3 linked regions of the Homo sapiens genome follow. The protein of the gene in region 3 purifies or fractionates together with the protein of the main gene of each other region. This does not show direct contact. Each region holds a gene or a part of one and is shown on either strand. Other genes may lie near its edges. The genes, in order: LETM1, RAP1A and OR2T10.

What was found.
Region 1: the proteins of OR2T10 (region 3) and LETM1 purify together in Homo sapiens (affinity purification with mass spectrometry; one large-scale study listed by BioGRID and IntAct). This does not show direct contact.
Region 2: the proteins of OR2T10 (region 3) and RAP1A purify together in Homo sapiens (affinity purification with mass spectrometry; one large-scale study listed by BioGRID and IntAct). This does not show direct contact.

The regions. Positions count from the first base shown.
Region 1 is NC_000004.12:1,849,559-1,853,295, forward strand, and holds part of LETM1 (mitochondrial proton/calcium exchanger protein precursor), read right to left. Parts: intron 1-3,737. UniProt on the Homo sapiens protein: Plays an important role in maintenance of mitochondrial morphology and in mediating either calcium or potassium/proton antiport. Mediates proton-dependent calcium efflux from mitochondrion.
Region 2 is NC_000001.11:111,696,289-111,699,788, forward strand, and holds part of RAP1A (ras-related protein Rap-1A precursor), read left to right. Parts: intron 1-1,152; coding exon 1,153-1,209; intron 1,210-3,500. UniProt on the Homo sapiens protein: Counteracts the mitogenic function of Ras, at least partly because it can interact with Ras GAPs and RAF in a competitive manner. Together with ITGB1BP1, regulates KRIT1 localization to microtubules and membranes.
Region 3 is NC_000001.11:248,589,767-248,592,360, forward strand, and holds the end of OR2T10 (olfactory receptor 2T10), read right to left. Parts: 3' UTR 721-2,594; downstream 1-720. UniProt on the Homo sapiens protein: Odorant receptor.

The sequences.
Region 1 (3,737 bases), on a different chromosome or scaffold from region 3:
TGCTCAGCCTTTTGTTCATTTTGATTTATTTGACTTTGCCCAGGCTGGAATGCAGTGGTACAGTCACGGCTCCCTGCAGCCTTGAACTCCTGGGCTCAAGGGATCCTTTTGCCTCAGCCTCCCAAGTAGCTGGGACTACAGGTGTGCACCATCAGGCCAGGCTAATTTTTGTAAAGACGGGGTTTCGTTTTGTTGCCTAGGCTGGTCTCCAACTTTTGGCCTCGAGCGACCCTCCTGCATTGGTCTCCCAAAGTGTTGGGATTACAGGCGTGAGCCACCACTCCCAGCCTGAAACCTTCTTTTAAGTCTGAAAGAAGGCGGGGCGCCGTGGCTCACGCCTGTAATCCCAGCACTTTGGGAGGCAAAGGCGAGTGGATCACCTGAGGCCAGGAGTTCAAGACCAGCTTGACCAGCGGTGAAACCTCATCCCTACTAAAAATACAAAATTAGCCGGGTATGGTGGCACATGCTTGTAAACCCAGCTACTTGGGAGGCTGAGTCAGGAGAATAGCTTGAACCTGGGAGGCAAAGGTTGCAGTGAGCTGAGATCGCACCATTGCACTCCAGCCTGGGCAACAAGAGTGAAACTCCGTCTCAAAAAGAAAAAAAAAATCTGAAAGAGTACAGATCTCTTTTGTAGAAACCTCTGTAAGTTTCTGGAAGCCAGTTCTGAGTGTTGGAAGGTTTCAGAGCACTGCTAAGTGAAGGGTCTGCCCCAGTTATGAAAACAGTATCTCAAAGTAGTCCTAAAAAAAGATGGGAAGCCTCAAGTAGATCCTGACTCCAGACACCCCAAGAGGGAAGCCAAGCAGGCCAGCCCTAGGGAGGGAGCACTCCTACCGGTGGCACCATCCCCACTCACTTCAGCTGGCTCTGGTGGAAACATGACCTCTATGCAGACAGCCCTATAGAGCAAGCAATGATCCCAAGGGGCAAGAGCTGTAAGAATTACTACAACCGGACCGGGCGCAGTGGCTCACGCCTGTAATCCCAGCACAGACGTGAACCCGGGAGGCGGAGCTTGCAGTGAGCTGAGATCGCACCACTGAACTGCAGCCTGGGCGACAGAGCAAGACTCTGTCTCAGAAAAAAAAAAAAAAAAAAAAAGAATTACTAGAACCACAGGCCGGGCATGGTGGCTCACGCCTGTAATCCCAGCACTTTGGGAGGCTGAGGCGGGTGGATCACCTGAGGTCAGGAGTTCAAGACCAGCCTGGCCCACATGGTGAAACCCCATCTCCACAAAAATAAAAAAAAATTAGCCGGACATGATGGCAGGTGCCTGTAATCCCAGCTACTCGGGAGGCTGAGGCAGGATAATCACCTGAACCCTCCGGGAGGCAGAGGTTGCAGTGAGCTGAGATCGCGCCATTGCACTCAAAAAAAAAAAAAAAAAGAGAAGAACCACAAAAACACCAAGAGTAAGCCATTTCTTGTATAAACAACAGTGATAAGTGTACAGCACATTTTTAGGATTTCAACATGTTTTTGATGCTTTCCCTAACTTGCTCTAGTTCCTATAAGCATAAAGTCAGAGTTCATTCGTATTACTGACATTCAGAGCCCATTGTGATCAAACTTCATGCTGGGAACAAGACAGGAATAGGAGCAGCAGGGCCAGAGGCACCAGCCCACGGAGGTGCCAGGCCAGGCTGTGCAGAGGCTAGGCGGTGCCGGGAGCCAGCAGGTAGCACCCTGAGATGCCCAGTGACCTTGAACCTCCAAGCAGTGGGGTTGCAATGAGTCAACAGCCAGGGAGCAGCAAGTGCAGCTTTAAGATGGGGGGAGCTCACTCCAGCCGGCAACGAGAGCCACCGTGAGAGGACGAACAAGATGGGGAGGGCAGGCACTGACCCTGCTCCTAGTGGACCGATACGTCACTTCACCTCATTTAACAGGAGGCAACTCTCCTGGTTCTGTGGGGAAGGAAATTCCTACTACGTGCCACATTTAGGGCTTGTAACAGTCCGGTCTGTGAACTGGGAGCTGGGTTAAGGGGAAAATGTTGGCTATGTTCTCATACACAGCAAGTTACATTTTAAGTTAAAATTCAAAGCACAGCACACGTGAGCATGCCAAGGCCCTTCTCACTCCAGCTGAGACTAGCTTTGGCCCCCACCTTTCTCCACATGAAGAGGGCCCAGCGCATTCTCCGCTATCCTCCCCACACCATGGCACCTTCAGCCCCTCCACCCCTGCCCCGGCCAGCTCCTGTGCCTCAAGGGCTCCGCCCGGCAAGCAGGCAGGCTGGCAGGTCTCCCAGAGTTCCCTGATCTGTCCCCCAGTGACCCTACCTTCTCTCTAACACTGCCTGTCCCACTGGCTCCCTTACTAGGCTCTCCCCAAAACCTGTTCTGACGGCTTCTGTCCCCAGCTCTCCAAGGAACCCCCAGTCAAGGCCGTTCGGGGTGATGGGGATCATTGCTCCACGTCCCTCACGAGCACAGGTGTCATCTGTGCCCAGGCCCTGCTGGGAGCCCTTCTGTTCTTTTTTCCAACACCAACGAATTCTCCAACTGGGAGTCCAACAATTTAATTCCATACTGACACTACCCAGAGTTAGTGCAGACCTCACAGGGTACGGGCTCAGTCCCACAAGACTGCCCCCACTCCATGTGCCCAGGCTTACCCAACTTCAGCTGACCACACATTTGAGGGTTCCCATGACCGCCTTGGTTTTGATCATTCACAAGAATGACTCAGATGTCAGCAATGGGCTCTACTTACTGTCACAGTTTATTATAAAGGGTACCTGGTACCTAGGAACAACCAGACAGCATGGCCAGGGAGGTCCCGAGCACAGGATCCTTTGTCCTGTGGAGCTAGGTGGACGCCAGTGGGAAGCCTCACCAGCCTCCTCACCCAGAAGTTCTCATCAAGGCTTCATGACTGATTACAGTATTGGCCCACTGGCCATGGGGACTGAACTAAATCTCCAAACCCTCTCGCCTCCCTGGAAGGGGCAGGAAGTTCCCACCCTCTAATCACAGCATGGCCAGCACCTCAATCTATCTAAGGGCCTGCCTGGAGTCACCTCATCAGCATAAACTCAGGTGCAGTGATAACGAATAACAGAAGACACTCCCAAACTCACGCCTGTAATCCTAGCACTTTGGGAGGCCAAGGCAGGTGGATCGCTGTTGAGCTCAGGAGTTAAGCCTGAGCAACAGAGACCCTGTCTACAAAAATGTTAAAACATCAGCTGGCAGGAGGATCGCTTGGAGGCTGTGGTGAGCCATGATCAAGCTACTGCACTCCAGCCTGGGTGACAGAGCAAGACCCTGTCTCAAAATACAAACAAATGAAAAAAGACACTCCCATCATTCAGGAAACTTCCAGGGTTCTCAGCCCTCAGTGCTGGTGCCAGGATCAGGTCAAAGAACAAACAAACCTTTCTTCACCTGGCTTCACCCTTGCCACTCCTGGGAGAGCCTCCCTACCTGACCTCCACCTCCTCCCCAGGCAATCTCTTCCCTGACTTGAATACACACGCCCCACAGGTCTGATGGGCACGGCACAGTCCACACCTCCAAGAACTCTCAACTAGCGCCCCTCCTCATTCTGCTCCTCCCCAAGTCCTCCCCAGTTTCAACAAATGGCACTGTTGTCCCCAGGCGGCTCAGGCCAGAGGCCACCTCTCCCACACAGCCCTCACTGTTGTCCCCAGGCGGCTCAGGCCAGAGGCCCCCTCTCCCACACAGCCCTTGGAGTCAGCCCTGCTTCTGCTCGTAAAGCGA
Region 2 (3,500 bases), about 140 Mb from region 3:
AGACATTTTTAGAATTTACCTTTAATAGTGCTGTAACTTTTGTTGAATTAATTTGTTAGTTCATGAAGGACTACTAGTAGAGCAGTTTCATTGTCTTCAAATTGGAAACAGAATTATGCTCTAGATACATCAAGAAACTATAGTCCTAATTGATTATTCACTGAACATTCCCAGTTACAAATTTTGCAGATTATCACACTTGTCCCATAAGTGGTGGGGTGGATGAGTTTGTGGTCTGACCAGTGGTGCCCCTCATCAATGTCTGATCTGACACAGAAGCAGAGTTTAAAATAGTCTTTAGGTTAGCACATTTATTTTTAGAAGACAGTGTTGCTCTACTGAAATTTCCCCAAAGTAAGTTGCTAGTTAAAGCTTTAACTGCAAAGCAAGATCTGTACCTAAAATTCTAAGGGACTAACTTTTCTTAATCCCTTCTTTATTAAAACAGTTTTCCACACAGTTGATAGTTGATACTTTCATTAGACCAACCTTCTTTTCTTTTATAAGACCAATGGGTAAATAGAACTCAGTGTATAAAATTTCACCTTTCACATAGAGCTTTTCTAGAAAAGTGCCTTTTTCTTGAGGCACTGTTTTAGCTCATTGCTGTTTATTTTAGTACTCCTGTGTTTCTTTTATGTCTTAAACTCAGATTTTACTGTGTATTTAATTTTCTGCATATTTTAGTAAAATTTTAACAACTTGAACATGGTAAGTTGGCAAGATTTTCTTTACCCCAAAATGTTGTGCGCATTTTGAGCCATTTAATATTTTTGTACTTTGTTTTCTTTGGAGATAATATAAATACACATATGTACTTTTTTTTCTGTTAGAACTATACTTGTTCGTTGAAGTTTTCCTTAAATTTCAAAATATGACTTTTGCCTTTTCTAATAACAAATAAGAATCGTTACAGAGGTCAGAAAATATCTAAACTCAGCATTAACCATCTTGGCTTCTGTAATATGAATAGACTGTACTTGAGACCGCTGTTCTTTATTGTGGTACCAAGTTTACCCCCAGCCATTACAGCATACTGCTGGAGACAGGCTTTGTATTTGTTAATAGTTACTTTGATGGAAGAGGTGGGAAGAAAACAGAATGAGATTTTGATGTTACTCTTTAACCTTTTTTTTTTTTTTGCCCCCACAGCAAGTTGAAGTCGATTGCCAACAGTGTATGCTCGAAATCCTGGATACTGCAGGGACAGTAAGGATGTTTTCTCTTTTTTTGATAGATTTTAATTTGTGAGCAGGTTTTGTCATCTGAGTAGGTTTTGTCATCCAGATAATTCTGAGTAAAAGTAATCATTCTGATTAAGAAGAAATTCTCTGAACATAGGGATTCTTAAGTATATGAAATCAACTCTGATGTAGTTCATGCTCACATATCACAAAGTTCACCTGTAATAATCTGTGTGTTGGGTTTCTTCCTACATTGAGGTAAGGATTATGCTGTCAGTGATTTTTTAAAATTTATTTTAAATTTAGAGCTTTAGTTAATATTTGTATTTCTATGGGTTTAAATAAGACCTTGTCTCTTGGCACCATAGTCATTAATTTTTATAATTTTTTCTTTTCACTAGCATTTTGACATCTCAAGGGGCTGGTGACAGATACATGTTTTCTGAGGAAGGCAAAAATCTTCCTCAGAAGATTTAGAATTATTTTGAGCCTCCTTTTTCTAATCTTTAAATGAGTATAATGATGTTAGTACATCATAAGGTGTTTGTGATAAGCAAATGAGTTAATAATTATAAATCATTAGGCATAATGTCTGTTACACAGTATGGAATTGTGTATTTGCTTTTATTCTTCTTCATTAATACCATCACCTTTATAATTTTTATTAATAACTGATGGTTTCCAGTTATACTGCCACATAAAATACATACATTAAGCAATCTTTGCTTTTCTTTGTTTATTTTTCTCCATGCACATAGACTTGACACATTAGGCAATTCTTAGCTTTAAAATGGATGGGTTCGTTTTTTGTTTTGCTTAAGAGACGAGGTCTTGCTCTGTCACCTAGGCTAGGGTGTAGTGGTGCAATCATAGTTCACCGCAGTCTCCTGGGCTCAAACAGTCTTCCTGCCTCAGCCTCCTGGGTAGCTAGAATTAAAGGCACGTACCACCACCCCCAGCTAATAAAAAAATTTTTTTTGTAGAGGTGGTTTCGCTGTGTTGCCCAGGCTAATCTCGAACTCCTGACCTCAAGTGTTCTTCCTGGCTCTGCTTCTGAAAGTGCTGGGATTATAGGTGTGAGCCATGGCACCTGGCTGGCATTTTTAAATGTGATAAGTTGTTTAAAATTCAGCACAAAGTTTTCCACTATAATTTTTATAAATGATGGAAACATTTCAGATAGTTCAAAAAAGCATGTAAGCAAATTGGAGTGATTTTATACAACAATATAGTACTAATTATACTGTATTTTTCCATTCTTTTTTGGGAAAATGGCTTAACTCTTATCAGGGACCTTTGCCCTCACAACAAGCTTCTGGTAAAGACCTTCTGAAACTACATTTTCTATCAGCTGAATCAAGCTATCTCTCCCTCTCCCACCCTCCTGCTCTCTAATGTTTTTAGCTTCTGAATCAGCAGAATTCCCCTTTGTTTCCAGAGACCCTAATAGCTAAAATGAATACTTTCTGCTTTTTTTTTTTTTAAATCACATCCACAGTGTACGGGCATTCTTCTTTCTCTGTCCAGATTGTAAGAAGGAAGTTCTCTATCACAGAGATCTTTACTTTGTGCTATCCAATATCGTGTCTGTCTCCCATCTAGCACTCAACACGCTGTGTTATAAGGCCTATTTGCTTGTTTGTGTCCCCAGTACCTTGCATAAAACCTTACAAACAGCTGCATAATCTTGTCTCAAAATCACTCCTTACACTTTGAAGATTTTTGCTTTCTCTCTTTCACATACACTGATTCAATCAGAATTCTTAGTGATTTTACTATCCATATAGAATCTATATGGATATTATAAATGATTTACTACCCTGGCTTGGCCTGTCATTTCCTTGATGTCCATCCTACCTTTAAGGCATTCATACCATGGTTTTACTCTAGGCTATGTGATTACCAATAAGTATAATACCTCTCTAATCTAATTTCCAAGCATCTTATCCTCCATTACTCACTACTTTTTTCTTTATCCATCTCACTTCCTCTTTTTTTTTTTTTTTTGAAACAGGGTCTCTCTCTGTCACCCAGGCTGGAGTGCAGTGGTGTGAACACAGATCACTGCAGCTTCAACCTCCCAGGGTCAAGAAATCCTCCCACCATAACCTCCTGAGGAGCTGGTGCTACTGCAGGTGCATACCACCACACCTAGCTTTTTTTTTTTTTTAATTTTTTGTAGAGACAGGGTCTCACTATATTGTCCAAGCTGGTCTTGAACTGGACTCAAGGGATCCTCCTGTCTTTGGCCTCCCAAAGTGCTGGGATAACAGGTGTGAGCCACTGCACCCAGGCCATCTCATTTCCTTTAGTGCC
Region 3 (2,594 bases):
AACTATATTATGCTAAGTGAAAAATACACAGAAAGACAAATACCATATATTCTCACTTATCTAAAATAGTAGACTAGCTCATAGAAACAGTAGCATGTTGGTCCCCCGTGAGGAGTTTAGGGAAACGAATAAAGACTGGTCAAATGCTACAAAGTTCAGTCATGCAAAAGTGAATAATTTCTAGAGGGCTAATATACAGCATGGTGACTATAGTTAGCAATATTGTCTTGTATACTTGACATCTGTTAAGAGAATAAATCTTGTATACTTGACATTTGTTAAGAGGATATCTTAAGTGTTCTAACCACACCAAAAAAAAAATAACTGTGAGGTGATGGAAATGTTAACGAGCTTGATGGTGGTCATGATTTCATAATGTATGAAATATATGTACATAATGTATGAAATAATGTCGGAAGACACCGACACGCCGCGCCGCCGGAGCCCCAGTGCATGCTGGTTGCGCTGAAGGCGACCCCGCCCCAGAATGCACGGAGCCTCCGCCCAGGCCCCGGAAGGACAATGTGCCCGACAACTGGCGATGGCTGTAGGAAGCCATGGTGAGGCGGGGGATGGATGGAACCACCCTGGGCCCAGCAGCTGTGATTGGCAGGAGGAGCCACATCTTTCATTCTTACAGCCTCAGTCTCTCTGCATCCTTATACTTAAGGTGTCTGTAATCATAATATTGTATAATCTGATAATCTCAGTATTTTACTTGGAACATTTAGTATATTACATATTTTATTGATACATAATATTTCTACATACTTATGGGGCACATGTGATATTTTGATACATGCATGCAATGTGTAATAATTACTGATATAATTGGGGTTCTATGTGAGCTATAACTTCTAACCATATTCTATTTGGCCCATCTGTTTCACGTCTCTTTTTCATTCTTTCGTTGCTTCTTTTAGAAATATAAAAATCTATCATTTTTTCATTTTATAAACTTGTTTTGGCGTTTACTATAAACATTACAGCATGTACTCTTGATTTACTAAAGTTTAACACAAATTACTACCTCTACTACATCAATATTGATATATCTTCAACATGATTTTTCATACATTTAAGTTTTGCACAAATCTAAACTGTATATTACATTAAAATTATTGCTAAGTCAATATTGATTATGACTCATTTACATATTACTCTTTGGGGTTGATGTTTGTCATTTTTGCTTATATTTCTGAGTTTACTTTTGAGATAATTTTTCTATGGCTGAAGAATTTTATCCACTTTTGTTTGTTGGAAAAATTTATTTTACTATCATTTTTTATAATTGGAGTTAGACTCAATCTACATCTAGTTCATCCCTATTACTGAGACATGGTCCTACTGGACTCTTGATTGACAGGCTGGTAGATGTCCCTATGCTCTGTCTTGAAAGCATTTCTCCCAATATCAATGTGGCTCATTAACTTGTAAACTCCACATCTTTGCTCAACTATAACCAGTGAGGATTAGCCTAAATCCCTACATAAAACGTGACCCCTACACACTCCAAGACCCCTCTCCTGCTCAAGATTTTCCAACACTTTTCTTCTGATAATACTCCATGTCTTCTTCTCAATTACCAAATTTATTTTCTGTATACACCCTTTAAGTGCTAAAAAAGATGAAGATTTTTATTTGTTTTGCTCACTGATGTATCCTCAGTTTGTAGAACGGGGCCTGGCAAACTATAGGGGCTCAGTAGTTATTTGTTGAATGAATGAATGACTTGGGGCCTAAAGGAAGATTATGTAGTCATGGAAAGTTATCTTCGTATCCTTGTACTTACAGATAAAAAAACATTCCGAAGAGAGGGAAAGCCACGTGAAAACATTGGGTATGGAAAGAACTATAGTGTTTCCAAGGTTGGAGTATGGCCCTCCCAGAGGGAGAGGCAATGCAGTGTGGAAAAGGCCACAGACTCCACAAGACGTGGCACATGCAGTGGTCAGGGGCAGGGACTCCGGCCTGCCTGCCTGGGCTTAAATCCCTGTTGAGCACTTTATAAGCTGCACACCCTTTTGTTCATGTTACTCAAACCCATGGGTTTCAGTTAAATCAACTGTAGAATAAGGCTAATAATAGGCTGTGAAAATAAAAGTGTTCCATACATGTCACGCACTAAAAATGGTGCCAGATCATAATAATCACACAAGACGTTATAATTATTATGTTATTTGTTAAATACAAATACAACCATGCACATACGTAAAACTGTGATTTGAAATTATATTCTAAGTATGTGTCACCATTGGCTTGAACAGGGAGAAGTGTGCGAAACTTCCATATTTCTCTGGTTAAGTCTATGAATAAACCAATTATACTCCAAACATGTTGTAGCCCATGTCTACTGGATAGCCCATGTCTCTGCTCTAATTTTGGGAGGTTTGACTTCTTATATGCTCACAGAAAATAAGAATTTGATTGAGAACACATTCTAGAAATTCTGATGGAAGAAAAATCTCAACTGTACATTTAGCATCTCTGAGGTCTTGAATGTGTTTATCTCCAAATGCCTATGGATGAATGAACCCCCTTGTCCCTGAGGATCCCCTGCTTGGGGCAAGTCAGGGGAAGCCTCAAAGGCTGTT